4 linked regions of the Homo sapiens genome follow. The protein of the gene in region 3 purifies or fractionates together with the protein of the main gene of each other region. This does not show direct contact. Each region holds a gene or a part of one and is shown on either strand. Other genes may lie near its edges.

What was found. Proteins that work in one complex are often made in the same cells at the same time.
Region 1: the proteins of CA6 (region 3) and PCSK9 purify together in Homo sapiens (affinity purification with mass spectrometry; one large-scale study listed by BioGRID and IntAct). This does not show direct contact.
Region 2: the proteins of CA6 (region 3) and NPC2 purify together in Homo sapiens (affinity purification with mass spectrometry; one large-scale study listed by BioGRID and IntAct). This does not show direct contact.
Region 4: the proteins of CA6 (region 3) and DDX19B purify together in Homo sapiens (affinity purification with mass spectrometry; one large-scale study listed by BioGRID and IntAct). This does not show direct contact.

What each region holds. Positions count from the first base shown.
Region 1 is NC_000001.11:55,046,048-55,049,547, reverse strand, and holds part of PCSK9 (proprotein convertase subtilisin/kexin type 9 isoform 1 preproprotein), read right to left. Parts: intron 3,026-3,500; coding exon 2,902-3,025; intron 1-2,901.
Region 2 is NC_000014.9:74,483,306-74,486,805, reverse strand, and holds part of NPC2 (NPC intracellular cholesterol transporter 2 isoform 2 precursor), read left to right. Parts: intron 1-369; coding exon 370-477; intron 478-2,218; coding exon 2,219-2,391; intron 2,392-3,500. UniProt on the Homo sapiens protein: Intracellular cholesterol transporter which acts in concert with NPC1 and plays an important role in the egress of cholesterol from the lysosomal compartment.
Region 3 is NC_000001.11:8,944,549-8,948,845, reverse strand, and holds the start of CA6 (carbonic anhydrase 6 isoform 1 precursor), read right to left. Parts: upstream 2,979-4,297; 5' UTR 2,972-2,978; coding exon of another isoform or gene 2,960-2,971; coding exon 2,881-2,959; intron 1-2,880. UniProt on the Homo sapiens protein: Reversible hydration of carbon dioxide. Its role in saliva is unknown.
Region 4 is NC_000016.10:70,309,186-70,312,685, reverse strand, and holds part of DDX19B (ATP-dependent RNA helicase DDX19B), read right to left. Parts: intron 78-3,500; coding exon 29-77; intron 1-28. UniProt on the Homo sapiens protein: ATP-dependent RNA helicase involved in mRNA export from the nucleus.

The DNA of each region.
Region 1 (3,500 bases), about 46 Mb from region 3:
GTGACAGCGTGGCAAGGTGGCCTCAAGAAGAGCCACCACTCTCAGGGGCAAAGAGGCCTTGGAGTGGCCTCTTCCAGCCTCTGGAAAGCTCTGTGGCCTCTGGCAGGTGAGAGCCCAGTCCTGCTTGCATACCTCCAGAGCAGGGAGCTCATTCCCTCTCACCAGGCAGCCCTGCCATACGCCTGAGAAGCTCAGACTGTGGCCAAGTTCTTCCTTTCACATCTGACCTGGAGGCCACCCAGGCCCTCCTGGTCTCACCAGCCTCGGTCCCTTCTGCACAGGCCACACTCCCTCCTGCCTCACAGCTTCAATCCACGTTCATTCCACTGCTTGGACACCGTCCCCTTTGCCTGGTTAATAATGCCCCCGTAGGTCTTGGCTAGAACAGCGCTTCCTCCAGGAATCCTTTCCTGATCCTTCTGCTGGATACACAGGCTCGCAGCTGCCTGCACTCCTTCAGAGCTCTCAGCCTATCCAGAACTAATCTGTGTCAAGTAGCATTTGTTTAAGGAATGGATTAATCTTCTGGATACACTGTTGGGGGAAGAGACCACATTCATTTCATTCACATTTGTATCCCCAGCACCTAATATGGTGCCTGGCGCACAGTGGGTGCTCAAAACGTTATTATTGAATGGTAAGAAAAGAAAAATGCAGGGCTAAAATCACAGCACCTCACTCAATACCTGACAGAGAAATGCATGCTACAGCAATAACTGATTTAACCCTCCAAACAGCCCCCCAGAGTGAGGGTTATCATTACCTCCCTTTTGCAGAGGAACCTGAAGATCAGAGAGGGTGAGTGACGTATGCAAGGTCACACAGTTAAGAGTGCAGGGTCTGGGTTTGAGGGCGGCAGCCAGCTCTAGGGCCCATGCTTGTGGCCTCCCCATGAATGAAGAAGCTGCTGCTGGGCCCAGCCAGCCTGCCCCATGCCAGCCCAACAGCTCCAGGAGGACTTCCTCCAGCCAAGCCCTTGATATGACTCCAGAAGGGGTTCCACACCCCTGCCTGCCATTCCTGCCACCTCCCACAGACACTCGGGGGAAGCGGGAAGGGGGGCAATCCATGGGCATCCTATGGGGAAGAAAGGGCCCCACGTCTGCTTCTGGCCCAAGGGAGAGGAGGGAACAGTGGCTGCCAAAGAGATACACTCACATCCTAACCCCCACAACCTGTGGCTGTGACCTTATTTGGAAAAAGGGTCCTTGCAGATGTGGTTAAGGTTCCCCACATGAGATCATCCTGGAGGATCCAGTGGGCCCTAAATCCAATGACAAGTGTCCTTATGAGACAATGAAGAGGAGAGAGACACAGAGAAGGCTGTGTGAAGACAGAGGCTGGGATTGGTGTGCTGCCGCTGTTGGGACACGGAAGAGGCAAGAGAAGCTTCTCCCTGGAGCCCCCCGGGAGAAAGTGGTCCTGCCGACACTGATTCAGGCTTCTGGCCTCCAGGACTGCAGAGAATCAACTTGTTCCAACCGAGGGGGTGGTAATTTGTCACAGCAGTGCTAGGAAACTAACTTAGGGGGCAAGATCTTCTCAGTCCCTGCCTGGACTGGGGTCTCTGTGATCCTCTGCCAGTGTCCCTCTTGGTCTCTGATATTAGCCTGCTCCGGGAGGTCCCTGAGGCACTGATGTGGAGTACAGGGGGCTCCAGGGCTCCACTGAAGAGGTCTCACCTGGTTGGAAAGGAACAGGCTCTTCCTACAGAGGAGCTGTCCTCTCCCTGGCCACAGGCTGCCCAGGCCGGGTCAGCACACATGACCGACCAGGCCCCTCACTTCTGCTGCTGCCACCCTTGCCAGAGGATGTCCCCCACACAAACCCTTTCTCCACACCCAGCCCACCAGCTCTGATCTGTTGCAATGGCAGCAACTCAGACATATGCAAGGTCACACAGTTTGGGTGTATGCAAAGTCACACAGTAGCCCCCCAACTTTTCACTTCCAAAAGCATCTGCACATCCTTCAACTCATTGGAGTCTCACAGCAACCTGTGAGAAGGACAGGGACAGGGTTATGTGCCCATTTTACAGACAAGAACGACAAAGCTCATAGAAGAAAGTGGCTTCCCAAGATCCCACGAGAACCGGTAAGGGGTGAAAGCTGAGTTCACCCCAAGCTCTGCGTCCTGGCACCATGTTGCATGGACCCACCACATTGCATCATCTCTGCGCTGAGCTCCAGACCTCACACCATGGGCACCTCAAACTTAACACAGTCCAACTAGAACCCTTCATTCTCTCCTCAGGCCAGGTGCATCTAGAGTCTTCCCCGACTGAATTGCCACCTGCAAGTCCCTGCTAGAATGCAGACCGTTTTCCATGGCCGCTCCTCCTCCCTCCCTTCCATAGCCAGGCCACACCAGGCAGAGGGAACAGTGGAAAGAAAGGCCTAGAGGGAAGACACAAAGTGGCCCAGGCAGGGAGCCCCAGGAAGCCAAACGGAGCTGGAGGCAGGTGGAGCAGCAAAACAGGAAGGTAGGCAGAGGCATCCCAGACAGGGTTGTGTCTATCCCATTAAAGGATCTGGTCCAGTCTGCAGGGCACTGGGAGTTATAGAGGCCTGGGGGCCCTAGGTAGAGTCACCATCAGATGAACCCTCCTTCCAAGGTAAGTGCAGCCTGCTGGGCCATTCCAAATGGTGAGAAAAGGAAAACAAGAGAAAAGAAGGAAAAGAGGATCATTTAAGGCAAGACTTTTGCATTTGTGGGGCAACAGGAAGGCAGGCAGTGGGGGCTGCAGGGGATGGGGATGGGACAGAAAAAAAGGGGTCAGTGGAGGTGCTGAGTCCCAAAGCCCCCCGAGAAGTGGAAACCACCAGCAGGGAGGCCAGGCCAGGGCAGAGCAAATGGATTCAGCTCAGATGGGGTGGGGCAGGGCACAGATGGGGGTCTTACCGGGGGGCTGGTATTCATCCGCCCGGTACCGTGGAGGGGTAATCCGCTCCAGGTTCCACGGGATGCTCTGGGCAAAGACAGAGGAGTCCTCCTCGATGTAGTCGACATGGGGCAACTTCAAGGCCTGCAGAAGCCAGAGAGGCCGGGGGACTCTGCTTAAGCCATTTGGACAGCAGCAAACACAGCCACAGCCTGGCCTTACCTGATCAAACCTGTCCCCACATCCCAGCCCAGCAGCCTCCCACCTTGTCCCTGCTAGTGCCCCGGAGGACAGACTAGGAGCCTGAGTTTTCTCGCTCCTTGATCAGGCTGGGAGCCCAGCACTCCCATATCCCTGCAACACGGTCTGGCATAGAGGATTCCTTTTAGGAAGGATTCTGAACTTGACATCTTGTCTGGGAGCCAGGCTGTGCCAAGGCTCTGGGCAGGATGGACATGGAGTGAAGCTCAGGCCCTGGACTCCATGCCTAAATCATGACATAACAGCACTGGCAATTCGGTTTGTCCCCTAGTCTATTCTCCAGCCTTCTCCAGCCTGCTCAGTGCAAACTGCAGCACCAGCTCCCTTGCAAAGCTTCCAGTTGGGCTCAGCCAATGGG
Region 2 (3,500 bases), on a different chromosome or scaffold from region 3:
AAGAATGCGAGATAAGACTCTAGGAATGTTTGGAATTTCTCTGATTGAAGTTTAATTCCTTTAATATGATCATTTATGGATATGGTCTTGATATTATTTAGTTTGACAAATATTAACTTTCTCTTGATCAAAAAACCAACTAGCTTCTTTATCATCTGAATTAAAGGCTATGATTTTAGCAGCAAGATGAATCAAGATTCTGACTTCTAATTGGGCATTATTCTTAAAGATTCCATCCTGGGAAACAGTCCGAGGAGAATGAGTTGACCCTAAATGGGAGAGCAGAGCACCTTCCCATTAGGTGGTGGGCAGCCTAGCTGGCTTATTTCTCCTCCTATTCTCCTATTCCAATTCATTTTTCTTTTGCAGGTTCTGTGGATGGAGTTATAAAGGAAGTGAATGTGAGCCCATGCCCCACCCAACCCTGCCAGCTGAGCAAAGGACAGTCTTACAGCGTCAATGTCACCTTCACCAGCAGTGCGTAAAAGTGGCTCTTAACTCAAATTCATGTTACAGCATAACCTAAATATCAAGTGTTGGAATAAGCATGGGAATGGAGGGGAGGGGAATTGGCAGTCATGAATTTTATGATTTCTTTTGCACCTCATGCAAAGCTAGGGTTCACTGTGCCCTTGGACACCCTTCTCATGCAGGGTCCATGGCTCCCAGACTCCCTTTAAGCAAACAGGGAGATGTCCATGTGTTCACAGGTTAGAGAAGACAGCTTGGCTTTTCTGTCTTGACCCATATTGCATAGTAGGCTATGATGGGAATGTCAGCTCTGTTTAGCTACAGACTGCAGAGTATTAGTATGGACCCCAATTCTTTAAGCTTTGGAACTCCTCCAAAATGTTGTTTTAAGCAGTAATGCCTTTCAGCTATTAAGTCTACATCCCACCTGAAAATAAAGGTGCAACTAATACTTAACAGCCTCCTTAAGATTTAGGGAACCCACTGGGGACCCAAGAAATAGCCAAGAAATCTGAGCTTTCTTCTCCAATATTCAAGAAATATCATTGGAACTTTTTGCTTTCTTGTACCACATCACTTTGAGATTTTTAAGAATCTAGACAAATGTAAAATCTTTTATTACTAAGCAGGGCATGTTCCTTGAATCTTTTCCTCATTTTCTGTCCTGTGAAACTAGACTAGACAGTCTAATAAGAAACCTCAAAGTTCCTGTCATCTTTTGTTCATAAGCCTAAAGACAGCTCTAAGTACTAGCTCCCTGTTTCCTCTCTGGACTATACCCTGGCCTCTCTATTGTTCCAAACCAAAAAAAAAAGCCTTCTGAACAAGTCATCCCCAACCCAGACAGAAGGAAAGAAACAGAACCAATTTTCTGGGTCTCCAAAATACCCTAATAACTCATAAGTCTGATTGCCCTCATTTTTTAATACCTTTATTCCTCCTGGCCATCTTGTGATGTGGAGGGTAAAGTTTATAAAGAATTGCATGTCTTTCTAATCTTACCCAATTTCTTTTTTTTTTTTTTTTTTTTTTTTTTTTTTGTGACAGAGTCTCGCTCTGTCACCCAGGCTGGAGTGCAGTGGCGCAATCTCAGCACACTGCAACCTCCGCCTCCTGGGCTCAAGCGATTCTCCCGCCTCAGCCTCTTGAGTAGCTGAGATGACAGGCATGCGCCACCACGCCCGGCTAATTTTTGTAGTTTTAGTAGAGACAGGGTTTTTCCATGTTGGCCAGGCTGGTCTCAAACTCCTGACCTCAGATGATCCACCCGCCTCAGCCTCCCAAAGTGCTGGGATTACAGGTGGGAGCTACTGTGATCCAGCCTAATCTTACCCTGCTAAAGGGTTACCTCTTTCACTGTTGTTACAGACCATGACATTTAAGACACACAATATACTTGGACAGAAGCTGATATAAATAGCAAACAGAAAGTTTACTGCCAAAAATCAGTTGCCTTGTTAGATAAGGTTGTTTATCCAGGTATCTCTGATTCTCCTAAGAAACTGTGAAGGGCCATGAAGAGCAAGGTTAAGAGCAAAGAAAACTTCTGCTGATTGTTTTTTTTTTTTTTTTTTTTTTTGCATAATTGTGTTTGGAGTGAATGCTTGCACTGTGCTAGTACCAAGCACCACTATCAAGAGAAATAGACCCTAGGAATGCTGTTGCTTGGGATTATTTCTGAATTTTTGATTTAGAGTTTGAAAATAGGTTATTTTCTTTGCCATCTGATTCTCTTTTTTTCTCTTAGATATTCAGTCTAAAAGCAGCAAGGCCGTGGTGCATGGCATCCTGATGGGCGTCCCAGTTCCCTTTCCCATTCCTGAGCCTGATGGTTGTAAGAGTGGAATTAACTGCCCTATCCAAAAAGACAAGACCTATAGCTACCTGAATAAACTACCAGTGAAAAGCGAATATCCCTCTGTAAGTGATACCATTATTGAGGACACGGGAGGCCTTGGGACTGGATTAGAGTTCTGAGGGCAGTGGGCAAGAAGCAGAGATGGGGGTAAAGGGCCCCTTATCTCTATGATGAAGAAGAAGCCCGAGGGAAAGGAGATAGGTGCGGTGTTAGGCATCAGGAGGTAGGGCAGGTCTTTTTCTCTGTGTCTCTTCATTCTTTCACTATGACCTGATGGTTAGCCTGGGCCTAATGATGCCATTTGTTTTTTAATATACTAAAATTTAATCATACATAAGAACTGTAATTTAATCTGACAGTAAAACACAAGAAGCAATATTAGAGTTGGTTTAGTATATTGTATATTTTAGCTTTGAAAGTCGTAGAAATCAGTTACCCCAGTTTTTTTCCTATAAAAGACCCATTTTTCCAAAGCATTATGCACAATTTCAATTAGAATATAATGACAGAGGATATTCCATAATTTTTAAAATATAAAATGAGGTAATTGATTCAAAAAAGTTATCTACTGCAATATCAATATCATTACAGATATAAAGTATGATGGTTCAACTTTTTAGTGCTTGATAGGGAGGAATCATGATAAAAAGGTCAATATGAAATCATTTGATTATAGTAGCAATATCTAACATTTGAAATGCATCCATGCTCTTTTGTATAATCATATTAGAGTCAAGTATATTTTCACATCTGTTATGTCTTATTTTCCAAGAGATATACACAGAGCAGTTTTTTTTCTCCAGGGAACTTATACAAACCAATATAAGATCTAAATTCTTCACATAATGTATAAAACAGGAGAAGCCTCTTCAAATTTATTTTTTGAAGTCTGGAATGCTGGCACTTTCCAATTAGGCAATAGTTCTTCATTCCTGTAACCTAGCTCAGAGCTGCTGCTGACTATGGGCCTAGAGCAGCAGACATGATTTCTTTTTAGGCTGTTTCTTTTCCACTGGTGTTTTTCTATTTATCTGTCTGACCAGGTCATAAAATATTTCATTAACATTGACCTTTGACTTTGCAGATTATTCTAAAATGGCACAGTTCCATCACTGTCATGCTAAATTCTGGCCCTGTTCTTTGCCAACTACTCACTCATCTTCCAGGTCAC
Region 3 (4,297 bases):
GGCATGCACCACCACGCCTGGCTAATTTTTGTATTTTTAGTAGAGACGGGGTTTCACCATGTTGGCCAGGCTGATCTCTAACTCCTGACCTCAGGTGATCCACCCACCTTGGCCTCCCAAAGTGCTGGGATTACAGGCGTGAGCCACCGTGCCCGGCCTGAGAGTGTTTTATACGTAAATTTTTGCTCTCGTTTGACTTATTTCCAGCTGGTGAATGCATGGAGGGATCCTTGGCTTTGCTCTTCCTGTGCTGCTCCTGGGGCCTCTTCCTCATTTCCTCCCAAGGGCCCAGTTGTCCTTCCATGCCCCCAACAGGAACACAGCCCCCACCTCCCCATGCTGCAGGAACCCCCCACCACTATTTTCTTGCTCCAGCCCCTTTTATGGATTCCCGTATGGTAAAGACCATCTAGGTGTCTACACTTATGGATTCAGGGAAACTAAGGAAGCATCAGGTTCCAGGACAACCTAGAATGAGTACTTTTTTAAAATTCATAAGGAGAAAGTTTATCTTTTCAGAGAGGGTTGATAATCGTAGGGGACAGAGTAACATAGGTGAGTGATTATCATGGTGACTTGGCTCCCATACAGCTGTGGAGCTTGGAGTCAGCCATGTGACATGGAGAATCCCACCTCTGTTCCCTGTTCGGGGGTAGCTGTGTGGTGAGTACACAGCTTGTTTTAAGACAGGTGTTTGTGGCTGGGCACGGTGGCTCATGCCTGTAATCCCAACACTTTGGGAGGCCGAGGCGGGTGGATCACCTAAGGTTGGGAGCTCGAGACCCACCCTGACAAACCTGGAGAAACTCCATCTCTACTAAAAATAAAAAACAATCAGCCGGGCATGGTGGCACATGCCGTTAATCCCAGCTACTTGAGAGGCTAAGGCAGGAGAATCACTTGAACCCAGGAGGCAGAGGTTGCGGTGAGCCGAGATCGCGCCACTGCACTCCAGCCTGGGCAACGAGAGTGAAACTCTCAAAAAAAAAAAAAAAGGTGTCTGTACTAGGGCCCTCACCGCTTTTTGGTTTGTAATCAAGGCAATTGGCCTGGAGCACAACGCCTTCTCAGAGCAAGATGCTTTGGCCCAGGGCACTGTCAATACTGGAACATCTCTCAGGTTTCCCTGGAAGGCATTTACAAAAGCTACTCTCAAGTTCTCCTGGAGCCCCTAGTAGTTTCCCAGGAAGCCCACTGTCTCAGAGGCTGGGCAGAGCCTGGGAAGGACAAGGACTTCATTGTCTGAATTCTCTCTTCCTTCACCTCTGAACCACCTGCCTGCACTGCTTGGCCAAGTGAAGCAGAATGCCCCAGGCTTCCGAGGCACTGCCATGTGTAAGATCACTGTCCTCAGGAACAGAGCGGTTGTTCAGAGCTGGCTGGACTTTCTGAACCTCCCAGGATGTCCCTAATTCCGTTGCCCTTGACTTAACAGATCATCCCGTTCACCCTGAAGGAATGCTTCCGGAGCAGCTGAACTGGGGCAGACTCTGCAGGAAGCAGATGTTTGTCTCACTTCCTGCATCAGCCAGCGGCCACCAGCCTCCTCATGGGCCCCAATCCATGGTCCCGTATGGAAAGAAGGGGGATGCGGGAAGAAGCTCTCCTCACTGCCCCTGGAAAGGGCTGTTTAGTGTCCACAAAGTCCACAGACACGGCCTTCTAGCTTTGGCTCACATGTGGACCAGAACCCATGTTGAATGCCAGGATTTTACATTTCACATTTTAAAAGTCTGGTTTGGGGCCTGGCGCGGTGGCTCACGCCTGTAATCCCAGCACTTTGGGAGGCTAAGGTGGGCGGATCACTTGAGGTCAGAAGTTTGAGAACAGCCTGGCCAACGTGGTAAAACCCCATCTCCACTAAAAATACAAAAGTTAGCCAGGCATGGTGATGAGTGCCTGTAATCCCAGCTACTTGGGAGGCTAAGACATGAGAATCGCTTGAAACCAGGAGGCAGAGGTTGCAGTAAGCCGAGATGGCACCACTGAACTCCAGCCTGGGCAACAGAGCAAGACTCTGTCTCAAAAAAAAAAAAAAAACAAAAAAAAAAACACCTCTCATTTTGGCAGCCCACAGATCAAAGGGAACTGGGTCCTTATGTCAAGATGTTCTGGGTAAACTGCCTACCATGAAATTTCCAAGAAAGAAGGTCTCGCAAACCCCACAGCACCTTCCGTGAGGTTACCGAGAGTCTTTTCTAAGAACTTTGTTTTCCACTTACACGGACCAACAAAGCAAATGGTTTTACAAATAGAAGCAGTGAGTGTGCTTTTGAACCAGCCAACACTGTGGATGGAAAAAAATTTAAAGCAAAAAGCCTGTAAGTAAATCAGGAGTTTGTGAAGGGGAAAGCTATTTCCTTCTTTTCCTTATTTGAAGTTTAAGTTCAGCTTATTCTCCATACCTTCTGAGACACTGAAAAGGTAACATCTGAAGCCACAATGAGCAGACCCCCAACATATGGCAAGTGGGCTGCCTGGCCATCCTGTGAAATGCCCTAAAGGAGGACTCTTGGCCGGGCGCAATGGCTCATGCCTGTAATCCCAGCACTTTGGGAGATGGGCAGATCACCTAAGGTCAGGAGTTCGAGACCAGCCTGGACAACATGGTGAAACCCTGTCTCTACTAAAAATACAAAAATTAGCCAGGCATGGTGGCAGGCACCTGTAATCCCAGGTACTCGGGAGGCTAAGGCAGCAGAATCACTTGAACCCGGGAGGCGGAGGTTGCAGTGAGCCAACATCACACTACTGTACTCAAGCCTGGGCAACAGAGCAAGACTTTGTCTAAAAAAAAAAAAAAGAAGAAGAAGAAGGGCACTTGTCCTGTTGTAAGGGTGTGAGGGTAACTGGGGGAGCATGCAGAAGCTAGGGGCTCACCTGAGTAGGTCCAGTCAGACACATGCTGGGCCTGGCCACCCAGCAGGAACAGGGACAGCAGAAGCACCAGGGCCCTCATGGTGCTGCACATCTGTAATGAAGACTGATTCCGGCGAAGCTCTTCTTTTAAAGGCTCAGAAACTGTAAATAACAATTTACAATTGATCTGCCCAGCTGGCTAAACCACCCTTTGCTGCACCCACTAAAACAATAACACCCTCCCCATAACAGCACTTCTGGCTCCGTGCATTGCGCCAGGCAGCCCCAGCACCTGCCTGATCTCCTCCCACGTCAATTTCATATCCGGTCAGTCCATGGGTTTGGTTGTTCAGTGTCTTAGGAACACCTGAAGAGCCACACAGTGCAGCCATTGTGGACAGGTGACCGCGGAAATGGGAAAAGGCCCAAGGCAGGGAGAAGCAGGATGAAAGACTTTCCTGGACGTCGGACTTCCCATGCTCTTTCTCCTGACATTAGAGATCTGGGGACTGCTGATGGGATCACCACTGCCTGCAAACCCTGCCCATCTCAGTCATGGACACAAGCCACCGCTGCAGACATGTGGCTGCCCTCAGCCAGGCATCCAGGGAGGTGGCCTGGCCTCCATGTTTGGACATTTCACGGTCCTCTCCTTAAACCAGTGGTTGATCCTGGGTCCCAGCTCATGAGCCACATTCCAATGTGTGCCTTTATGCCATTCAAGCTGGTGTGGGCGTCTGCATTTCTACATGGATTTGTTCTGACACCTGCAGGGCTCTTGGGCACACCTAAGCCAATCAGCCAATTGCCCTCGCAGGATCCATGGATTACCTAATCCTGTGTATTCACTTGGCTAGACAGTCCCTGAAATTAGCTGAAGGAGAAACTTTTGAGTTTATGCCTGCTGACAGGCCAGCATTTCCCATGCCCTTCCACAAGGTCAAACACAAAGGGTAGCCGGAGCTCCTGCGGGGGGGCTACCATGCTGCCGGACACAAAGGGCCACCCCTGCCTTGTTATGGGGAGCTGAACCCCCTCCTGGCCTAGCTTAACTCATTGTCCACTTGGTCCTGGAATGGCAAACGTCAGCAGGCCTTCACAACAAGGATGTTAGCGGTGAACGTAGGCCTCCCGAATACTTCTAAGACTCCCCACTGTCATTTAATAGGGAACATCAGCTGCTGCAAAGAACTTGCTGGAAACTTCCATTTCTAAAGCTCAAGAGCTGAAAGAATCTCAGAGAGAGAGCAAAGCATGTTCAAGGACAAGGATTCTGAAACTAGACAGGATCTGTGCCACCTGCTAACTGTGTGACCATGGGCAACTCAGCGCTCTGTGCCTCAGCTTTCCTTCCTTTTCTTTTTTCTCTTTCTTTCTTCCTTTCTCTCTTTCTTTTCTTTCTCTCTTTCTCTCTTTCTTTCTTTTTTGAGACAGGGTC
Region 4 (3,500 bases), on a different chromosome or scaffold from region 3:
GTTTTCAAACTAGCTATTAGTTACTTACCATTGGTATCTGGTTTGATTTTCTCTTCCTTAAGATGCAAGTTGCTCAACTAAATGGAGAATATGGGGGAGGGGGAAAGTGTCAGGAAAAGCACTTAAAAAGATTTGGAATCAACAGAGCCTCCCTAATGAAGCTGGGGATAAAATAGCCATTCTCAAGGTATATTCATTAGGACCAATTCATTGGGTTGTTCCGTTTACTAAATGTCTGATGAGAATAAACAAAATTTCCCGTAAATACATCGGTGGAAAAAAATGCTCCAAATCTGTACCTTCTACTTAAAATTCTGTGAGAGAATTGTAATTTGTGAGTTTGCTTAATGCCCTGATTATAAACTTTCTCTCTTTGTAGAATATCATTAGAGTTGTCATTCTCTCATATTTCTTTTGTGTGTGGGGGGGAATCGCTGCATTCCAAATCATATTTCAAACAAGAGGAAATTTAAAGAGATTTTGAAAAATGCAGTCATACTTTGGAGAACACTGGGAAGGGAGGACTGTGATGAAAAGCATCTGTAAAGCCAGGTGCGGTGGCTCGCGCCTGTAATCCCAACACTTTGGGAGGCTCAGGCAGGCAGATCACGAGGTCAAGAGATCGAGACCATCCTGGCCAACATGGTGAAACCCCGTCTCTACCAAAAATACAAAAATTAGCTGGGCGTGGCGGTGCATGCCTGTAGTGCCAGCTACTTGGGAGGCTGAGGCAGGAGAATCGCTTGAACCCAGGAGGCGGAGGTTGCAGTGAGCCAAGATCACGCCACTACACCCCAGCCTGGCAACAGAGTGAAACTCCGTCTCACAAAAAAAAAAAGAAAAGAAAAGAAAAGAAAAGCATCTGTGGGTAGGAATCAGTCATACTGCAGGATACGTTAGAGCCGTAAGACCACAGTATGCTGATGTGCAGCCTCACATTCAAGTCACCTTTTGCTGGTGTCTGATACTGTAGTTGGGAACAGCCTGAAGCATTGTGGCACACTGTGTAATTAAAATACCCACTGGGCTGAAGTGGAAATAGAAAGGAAAGAGACATTTCAAAGAATAATTACTAAGACTTTGATCAAATACTGTATATTAGGGATATCCTAGCAGGTCTTATCTCCTCTATTAGAATGCAAATACCTTCCTGACAGGGCCTATTTCGTTTTCTACTGCTCCTTGAGGAGCAGGGCTACCCCACAGGAAATGTGCCCAGAGTAGCATATTTCTATTTTTGGCCTTTGGATGTAGTACAGAGCAAAGTAAGTGCTCTAGTCGTAAATTTTTTGTTTGTTTGTTTTTTGAGACAGAGTCTTGCTCTGTCACCTGGACTGGAGTGTAGGGGCGCGATCTCAGCTCACTGCAAGCTCTGCCTTCCGGGTTCACGCCATTCTACTGCCTCAGCCTCCCGAGCAGCTGAGACTACAGGCGCCCGCCACCACGCCCGGCTAATTTTTTGTATTTTCTTTTTTTTTAAGAGATGGGGTTTCACGGTGTTAGCCAGGATGGTCTTGATCTCCTGACCTCGTGATCCGCCTGCCTCAGCCTCCCAAAGTGCTGGGATTACAGATATGAGCTGCCACGCCCGGCCTTTCTAGTCGTACATTTTTATTAAAAACAAAACAAAACAAAAAAGCCTTTTTTTTTTTTTTGAGACAGAGTCTCGCTCTGTTGCCCAGGCTGGAGTGCAGTGGCCTGATCTCAGCTCACTGTAAGCTCCGCCTCCCGGGTTCATGCCATTCTCCTGCCTCAGCCTCCGGAGTAGCTGGGACTACAGGCGTCCGCTACCACCCCCAGCTAATTTTTTTGTATTTTTAGTAGAGGCAGGGTTTCATCATGTTAGCCAGGATGTTCTCAATCTCCTGACCTCGTGATCTCCCTGCCTCGGCCTCCCAAAGTGCTGGGATTACAGGCATGAGCCACCGCACCTGGCCAAAAAAGACTTTTTTAAAGGTCAGAAAGCATCTGTAAGTCTTGGACCCCAGCACAGGGATTAGATAGATGGAAAGTCTGGCGTGAGTAAGTAACCTTTCAAGCTAAAGCCAACCCTAATCATAAAATATCAAGCAGGGCCTAAGACATCATCTAGTAAAAAGAAAATGAAAATCACAACCTAATGGTTCTTTCTTTTTTTTCTGCAGACGAGGTCTCACTCTGTTGGCCAGGCTGGAGTGGTGCAGTGGCATGATCATGGCTCATTGAAGCCTCAACCTCCTAAGGCTCAGGCAATCCTCCTGCCTTAGCCTCCCAAGTAGCTGAGACTACAGGCACTCACCACCATGTCCAGCTAATTTTTTTTTTTTGAGGCGGAGTCTTGCTCTGTTGCCAGGATGGAGTGCAGTGGTGTTATCTCAGATCACTGCAACCTCCGCCTCCTGGGTTCAAACGATTCTCCTGCTTCAGCCTCCCAAGTAGCTGAGACTACAGGCATGCACCACCATGCCCAGCTAATTTTTGTATTTTTAATAGAGACAGGGTTTCACCACATTGGCCAGGATGGTCTCAATCTCTTGACCTCATGATCCGCCCACCTTGGCCTCCTAAAGTGCTGGGATTACAGGCATGAGCCACTGCGCCCAGCCTGCCCAGCTAATCTTTTATTGTAGAGTTGGGATCTTACTGTGTTGCTCAGGCTGGTCTTGAGCTCCTGGGCTCAAGCGATCCTCCTGCCTCAGCCTCCCAAAGTGCTAGAATTATAAGTGTGAACTACGCATTAGGCCGCATTTCTGTTGTCCCTCTAAGTCCAAGAACAGGCGAAAGGGGAAGGAGGGTAGAGAGGAGAGAACAAAAAAATGTTTTAATTGGTGGTTTGTTGAGAATGGAGGAGCCCCATTTCTATTTCTCTTTTTTTTTTTTTTTTTTTTTGAGACGGAGTCTTGCCCTGTCGCCCAGGCTAGAATGCAGTGGTACGATCTTGGCTCACTGCAACCTCCGCCTCCTGGGTTCAAGCAATTCTCCTACCCCAGCCTCCCAAGTAGCTGGGATTACAGGCGTGTGCAACTACGCACAGCTAATTTTTGAATTTTTAGTAGAGACGGGGTTTCACTATGTTGGTCAGGCTGGTCTCGAACTCTCGACCTCGTGATCCACCCGCCTCGGCCTCCCAAAGTGCTGGGATTACAGGCGTAAGCCACTGCACCCAGCCAGGAGCCCCATTTCTTTTTGTTTGTTTGTTTGTTTTGTTTTTTGAGATGGAGTCTCGCTCTGTCGCCCAGGCTGAAGTGCAGTGGCGTGATCTTGGCTCACTGCAAGCTCTGCCTCCCAGGTTCACGCCATTCTCCTGCCTCAGCCTCCGGAGTAGCTGGGACTACAGGCGCCTGCCACCATGCCCGACTAACTTTTTATATTTTTAGTAGAGACGGGGTTTCACCGTGTTAGCCAGGATGGTCTCGATCTCCTGACCTCGTGATCTGCCCGCCTCGGCCTCCCGAAGTGCTGGGATTACAGGCATAAGCCACCGCGCCCAGCCTCCCATTTCTATTCATGGAAATGGACAA